Homo sapiens: one gene and its partner. The protein of the gene in region 1 interacts with the protein of each later gene in a pairwise test. Each region holds a gene or a part of one and is shown in the gene's direction. Other genes may lie near its edges.

Evidence for each region.
Region 2: the proteins of TCEANC (region 1) and ZNF276 interact in binary tests that used the Homo sapiens proteins (3 or more experiments, as listed by UniProt).

What each region holds. Positions count from the first base shown.
Region 1 is NC_000023.11:13,656,017-13,659,776, forward strand, and holds part of TCEANC (transcription elongation factor A N-terminal and central domain-containing protein), read left to right. Parts: intron 1-3,635; 5' UTR 3,636-3,670; coding exon of another isoform or gene 3,671-3,752; intron 3,753-3,760.
Region 2 is NC_000016.10:89,731,537-89,735,036, forward strand, and holds part of ZNF276 (zinc finger protein 276), read left to right. Parts: intron 1-1,765; coding exon 1,766-1,876; intron 1,877-1,945; coding exon 1,946-2,021; intron 2,022-2,384; coding exon 2,385-2,502; intron 2,503-3,500. UniProt on the Homo sapiens protein: May be involved in transcriptional regulation.

The sequences.
Region 1 (3,760 bases):
TACTAGAGGATGATCCCTCTAACAAAGTGCCAGACTCACAGTTGGGCCTTGTGAGTGCCAGAAGTACAGTGAAGGCAGTAAAGAAGCAAATTGTAGCTGTCCAGATGATGGCGAGCCCAGATAGGGTTTGGTGCCATCCTGCGTGTGTTTCCCCTAGCAGCCAGTGTCTGTCCATGTTGAAATTCCACATGTGTTGTAACTGGCCAGTTTCTTGTCAGTATTACTCCCACTAGGCTATCAGCTCCTTCAAGGCAGAGACTGTCTCTTTAGGCTCAGCATCTAGCACATACTCAATCCCTAATATATATTTATTGAATGAACTATGTAGAACTAAGCTGGACATATGCCTTACCTTGTCTTTTTATGGCAATTGTCAGAATTTTGTATTTCAATGGCTTCCACATTATACCCTCCTAGGGCAATAAATCCTTTATATCCACATGATGGTCCCACAGAGGACTAGAAAGTTTGACTGGATTTAAATCCTGTTAAAAATGTGGAAGGGAATGGAAAACAATACAGTGGGTCCTCAAAAAATTAAAAATAGAATTACCATATGATCCAGCAATTCCATTTTTGAGTATATACTCTGAAGAATTGAAAGCAGGGTCTCAAAGAGAGATTGGTATACCAGTGCTCACAGCAGTGTTATTCACAATGGCCAAAAGCCAGAAGCAACTCAAGTATCCGTTGACATTTGAATGGATAAACAAAATGTGTTATGTATAGACAATGGAATATTATTCATTCTTAAAAAGGAAGAAAGTTCTGACACATGCTACAACATGGATGAACCTTGAGGACATTATGCTAAGTGAAATAAGCCAGTCACAAAAAGAGAAATACTGTATGATTCCACTCACATGAAGTACCTAGAGTAGTCTCATCCATAGAGACAGAAAGTCGAGTGGTGATTGCCAGGGGCTGGAGGGAGGGAAGAATGAGGAGTTGTTTAATGGGTGCAGAGTTTTCAGTTTGGGAGGATGAAAAGAGTGCTGGACATAAGCATCTTGATGGCAGGGACTGTGTCTTTTCAAAAATCCATGGGCTCTGTTTTATAGCACTTGATATTAAATAATCACCACCGAACATACACAGGCTAAGAACACTGAAGTGTTTAGAGAGAGAATTCACACAATCTTCCCAGACACCATATGACAAGTGACATAAAACATATTTACCTTTTAGTAATTCTACTTCTGTGAATTCACTTTAAGGAAACGAGAGATGTGGAGACCGCATATGTACGCATTTTCTTCAAACTTAGGAGAAACTGGAAGGCCCCAAATAGGAGAATGATTAAAAACTATCGCAAACTCCTAGGATGATCCAATAACATAACCATTTAAAAATCGTGTTTTTAGAGAATATTTAATGATGTGGAAAAATAGTCCTAAAGCTAAGTGAAAAAAAATCAAGATGCAAAACTATATGAAAGATTAAACAGTTATATAATCCAGCAGATTCAAGATAAATGAAAACATATGTCCATGCAAAAACTTGTACACAGGCCGGGTGTGGTGGCACATGCCTGTAATCCCAGCACTTTGGGAGGCCAAGGCAGGTGGATCACCTGAGGTCAGGAGTTCGAGACCAGGCTGGCCAACATGATGAAACCCTGTCTCTACTAAAAATACAAAAAGTAGCCGGGCGTGGTGGCACATGCCTGTAATCCTAGCTACTCAGGAGTCTGAGGCACGAGAATCACTTGAACCCAGGAGGTGTAGATTGCAGTGAGCCAAGATTGCACCACTGCACTCCAGCATGGGTGACAGAGCGAGACTCCATCTCAAAAAAAAAAAAAAAAAAAACACACACACACTTGTACACAAATGTTCATAGCAGTATTATTCATAATAGCCAAAAATGGGAAATAATCAAAATGTCCATCAACTGATGAATGGATAAATAAAATGTGGTTTATCCACACAACATAATATTATTCTGCCATGAAAAGGAATGAAGTACTGAAAATGCTACAACATGGATGAACCTTGAAAACGTTATGCTGAATAGAAGAAGCCAGATACAAAAGACCACATACTGTATGATTTTATTCACATGAAATGTCCAGACAGCAAATCTATACAGACAGAAAAAAGATTAGTTGTTGACTTGGTGGGGTGGGACAGAAGGGCAGTGGAGTGAAGAAAGAGGAGTGGCTGCTAAAGTGCAGGGATTTTCTTGGGGGGTGGTGGCACAGATAAATCTTCTAAAGTTGATTTATTTGTGGTGATGGGTTACACAACTGTGAATATACTAAAAGCCACTGAATTATACACTTTAGGGGAATTGTATGGTATGTGAATTACATCTGAATAAAGGTGTTATTTAAAAATAGAATCTGGTCCAAATTTTACTTAAGAATTACATATGGAAAGACTGAAGAGATACGCAAAATTTTAAAGAGGGGCATTTTCTGAATGGTGAGATTTTAGGTAATTTTCATTTGTTCTTTTACTCTTTTCTGTATTTTCTGTGATGAGCATGCATTGTTTTCATAATCAGAAAAGTTATTGGTCTAATATAATTTCATGATAAACTGTATACATTTAAGATACTGAAAAATGGTATGGTGAGAAATGAATCAATCACCTTCTACCCACCTTCCCTCTGAAATGTGAATATCGTCTCTTAAGAGTGGCTATATCACCTGTGGCTTTGCATTCAGATAAGTATTCATAATTGCCTCAGAAATCGATTACTGCATCTCAAACAGGTGCATCTCCCCTCAAACTTTATCCCCAAATATGAAGAGTTAAGTACCCTTACATAACCAAGAGTCTGAGTCCTACATTTTTAACCACCAGAGGGAGCTGGAATGTAGAAAACCTGGGGCAGTCAGTTTTGTTTTGTTTTAAAGTTAGTTTCACAAAGGGCCATCAATTCAGGATCTTATGTAATTTTCCTAATTATTGTGAACCAGCACTTAAAAGATAATTCTTTTTTGCCTTTTTAAAATTCCACTTTTAAAGACTGCATACAGTAAAAGAGGTCTTCCTAAGAATCAAACTCTTAATAAACAACAGGCAAGACAGCACAGAAAAATAAAAAATATTCACACCCTCTATTAGCGAACATTTCTCTCAGAATTGTCTGCTTCAGATCTTGAAGTCACGCAGTTGTGTCACAGTGATAAAGTTTCAAGTTATTCAATATACTTGAGCCCTCCCCGACTCGTTGAAAAGTTTCCTAACAAAGAAGAAACATTCAATGTGCCTGCATTCTATATGCATTACTATTGAAATCAGGATGGAGGTTTGCTAGGCATTGAGAAAGATGGTGAATAAGAGATGGGCCTACAGCGCCCAAAAGGAAGTTAAGCAATATTTGACTCAGGTCAGAATTTCTCAACTGAAGGTCTGAGTTTCAAGGTAATTCTTAAAGGGAATTGTAATTATAGCTTCGGGGTTTCAGTGGGGTGAAAGCAGCAATTTGTCTTACCAGCAAAATGAGTAAATCTATAGAAGTTAATGTATTTATGTATAAACAACCAAAAAGCACTTTGCTCTTCATTTTATATGTTCTTTTATTGACCTTTTCTTCATATTTCTTTAAAAAATTTTAATTGTGATAAAATATACAAAACATAAAATTTACTGTGTTAAGCCCTTTTTTTTTTTTTTTTTTGACAGAGTCTCGCTCTGTCGCCAGGTTGGAGTGCAGTGGCATGATCTCGGCTCACCGCAAACTCTGCCTCCCGGGTTCAAGCAATTCTCCTGCCTCGGCCTTCCGAGTAGCTGGGACTACAGGTATGCGC
Region 2 (3,500 bases), on another chromosome or scaffold:
GCCACCGCGCCGGCCTCAATGCACTCTTTAAAGAGAAGGGCAGTTAGCGACAGGGTCTCATGTTGTTGCCTAGGCTGGGGTGCCCTGGCACGATCATGGCTGACTGCAGCCCTGTGCGCTCAAGTGAGCCTCTCACCTCAGCCTCCCAGGGTGCTGGGACTGCCAACATGAGCCACTGGACTCGGCAGTGTAAACTACTTTTTTCATGCTATTGCATATGTATTGTTCATTGATAATATATAGAAACATAACTGGGTTTTGTGTATGGATTTTGTGCCCTGCAACTTTGCTGAAATAATTAATTAGGGTTTTTTGTATGTGGATCTTTAGGGTTTTCTACGTAGAAGGTCGTGTCATTTGTGAATAGGGAGAATTTGTCTTTGTTTTCTTTTTCTTGCCCAGTTACTCTGGCTAGGGCCTCCAGTGCTGCCCTGAGAGCAGTGGTGAGAGAATCCGTATCTTGTTCCTGACCTTGGAGGAAGAGCTTTCAGTCCTTCACAGTTGAGCGTGGTGTCTGCTGTGGGTTTCATGTAGAGGTTTTATCGTGGTGAAGAAGTTCCTTTCTGTTCTTGAGATATTTCCTTAACTATTCTTACCTGGATCCAGAAAGGAACCACAAGTGCGTCTCTCTCTTTAAGTCTCCGATAGACGCACACTGGAAGCTGCTGCATTTGCTGGTCCCTCAGGGACTTGCCAGACCAACTAAAATGCACGACCCCAGACTTTTGGAGGACAAGGTCTCCTGCCCACCATGGTCCCAGCCAGCAGCTCCAGGAACACAGGCTGGGCTCCCTGCAGTGGAGGCGGGGTTGAGGAATGCTGGGGTGGCAGCTACTCACCGTGTGCTTCCCAGGGAGCATCACCTGTTCCTCTGAAGCCCTGCCTGGGTGGCTTGAGCTTGGAATCAAGCTGACCCATTTTGAGAGAGTGGATTCTGAGCTTTTTCCTAGCGTAAGGTCGTTTTGATAAAGGAGTGGTCCTTTGGACATCCCTGTTCTGCCGTCCTGATACCTCTAGTTGTGGGTTTTATGTGTAGCACAGGGTGAAGCTTTAGTTCTCAGAACCCACCCCTGCTGTACCCTGTGCCCTCGCCCTCCGCTGTGTTTGCCCTGACCCTCCTGTACCCTGCGTCCTCGCCCTCTGCTGTGCTCACCCGACCCTGCTGTACCCTGCGCCCTCGTCCTCTGCCGTTTGCCCCTGACCCTGCTGTACCATGCCCTCGCCCTCTGCTGTGTTCACCCTGACCCTGCTGTACCCTGCGCCCTCACCCTCTGCTGTGTTCACCTGACCCTGCTGTGTCCTGCGCCCTTGCCCTCTGCTGTGCTCGCCCTGACCCTGCTGTACCCCGCTGTACCCTGCGCCCTCGCCCTCTGCTGTGTTCACCCCGACCCTGCTGTACCCTGCGCCCTCATCCTCTGCTGTGCCCTCCCCCTCTGCTGTGTTCGCCCTGACCCTGCTGTACCCTGCGCCCTCGCCCTCTGCTGTGTTTGCCCTGACCCTGCTGTACCCTGCGCCCTCGCCCTCTGCTGTGTTCACCCCTGACCCTGCTGTGTCCTGCGCCCTTGCCCTCTGCTGTGCTCGCCCCTGAGGCCTCCTGTCCAGAGTTGCTCTGGCTTTGGTGGCTTCAGGTAGATTCTGAGGGTCAGTCAGCACAGAAGCAACTCAGGGAAGCTTCAGAAAAGACCATTTCTCAGGTTGGAGAGACAAAAAACATTTTGCAAATGGAGATCAGAAACCATTGAATTTGGGAACCTCTTTTTTTCAGAGTCTCTGGTAAGAAGAGTGAAAGCAAAGAAGCCAAGAAGTCTGAAGAACCAAGAATTCGGAAGAAGCCGGGACCCAAGCCCGGATGGAAGAAGAAGCTTCGTTGTGAGAGGTGATGCCTGCAACGCGAGGCTCGCCCTGCCTGTCGGGGCCGGGGCTCCATGCATGCTCTTCATTGCAGGGAGGAGCTTCCCACCATCTACAAGTGTCCTTACCAGGGCTGCACGGCCGTGTACCGAGGCGCTGACGGCATGAAGGTGAGCACTGGCTGTGCCTGACCCAGGCCCGGCAGCTGTCAGTGTGAACCTGGGGGAGGTAGCAGGTGTTTCTGCAGCCTAACTCAGACTTGCGCCCAAGGACACTTTGACCTAGGTTAACCGAGACCTGAAGCAGTCCTAGCCAGTGCCATCCTTGGGGGTAGATGTGAGGCCAGACTTTCACTTGAGACACCCCCCGGGGGGTCTAGAAGTTTCTTGGAGTGAAGCTGTGAAGGAGCCAGTGGTGTCGCTGGAGGAGGAGTTGGATCTGCCTTCCAGGGGCCTCAGCTGTCACCTACTGAGGGCTCGTGCCATGTGGCCCGGGTGCGGCTCTGAGGGTCTCTCACCGAGTCTCTCCTTCAGAAGCACATCAAGGAGCACCACGAGGAGGTCCGGGAGCGGCCCTGCCCCCACCCTGGCTGCAACAAGGTTTTCATGATCGACCGCTACCTGCAGCGCCACGTGAAGCTCATCCACACAGGTACGCCTATCGCCAGTGTCGCCCACGCGGGTGACAGCCAGGGGCACGTGACCTGCTTTCCAGTCTTCCTCATACCCATCCCCGCCCCAAGAGTTGGGGGTGCGTGAAGGTGGCTCATGGGGTCTTTGGTACTCAGTCACGTTGGTAGATGAAGGCTAGAGTAGGGCGTCAGTGTGAATCTGCCCTTCCCTGTGATGGAAGGAATTCCTGACTTCCCCAGGATCTAGGCAGTTTGTCAAAACTAATAGCCAAGCAATCTTGGTGTCCTTTTGCAAATTGGTCATTTTATTTTTTAATTTTTTTTTGAGACGGAGTCCTGCTCTGTTGCCCAGGCTGGAGTGCAGTGGCACCATCTTGGCTCACCACAACCTCTGCCTCCCAGGTTCAATCAATTCTCCCGCCTCAGCCTCCCAAGTAGCTGGGATTACAGGCACCCGCAACCATGCCTGGCTAATTTTTGTAATTTTTGGTAGAGACGGGGTTTCACCATGTTGGCCAGGGTGATCTCTAACTCCTGACCTCAAGTGATCTCAGCCTTCCAAAGTGCAGAGATTACAGGTGTGAGCACTGCACCTGGCCCAAACAAGTGTATCTTAAAAGGCAAGGCAGAAGGCATGAAGGCACACCAGCTCTGGGGAGCTGCCCACGTGGACAGGCGGGAGGCACGTGTGGTTCTGCCTTTTCACATGTGTGTAGGTCGTGTCATTAAGACCGGAGGCGGATGGGGGAATTATGACTGAGGGTGCTGTCTCTGTGCCCGTCTTATTTTTCACAATTTCTATAATGCACAAGTTACTTTTATAATCCAACAAGGATATGTTTTCAAAATGACAAACTTGGCCGGGCGTGGTGGCTCACACCTGTAATCCCAGCACTTTGGGAGGCTGAGGTGGGTGGATCACCTGAGGTCAGCAGTTCAAGACCAGCCTGGCCAACATGGTAAAACCTGGTCTCTACTAAAAATACAAAAATTATCTGGGTGTGGTGGCACACGCCTG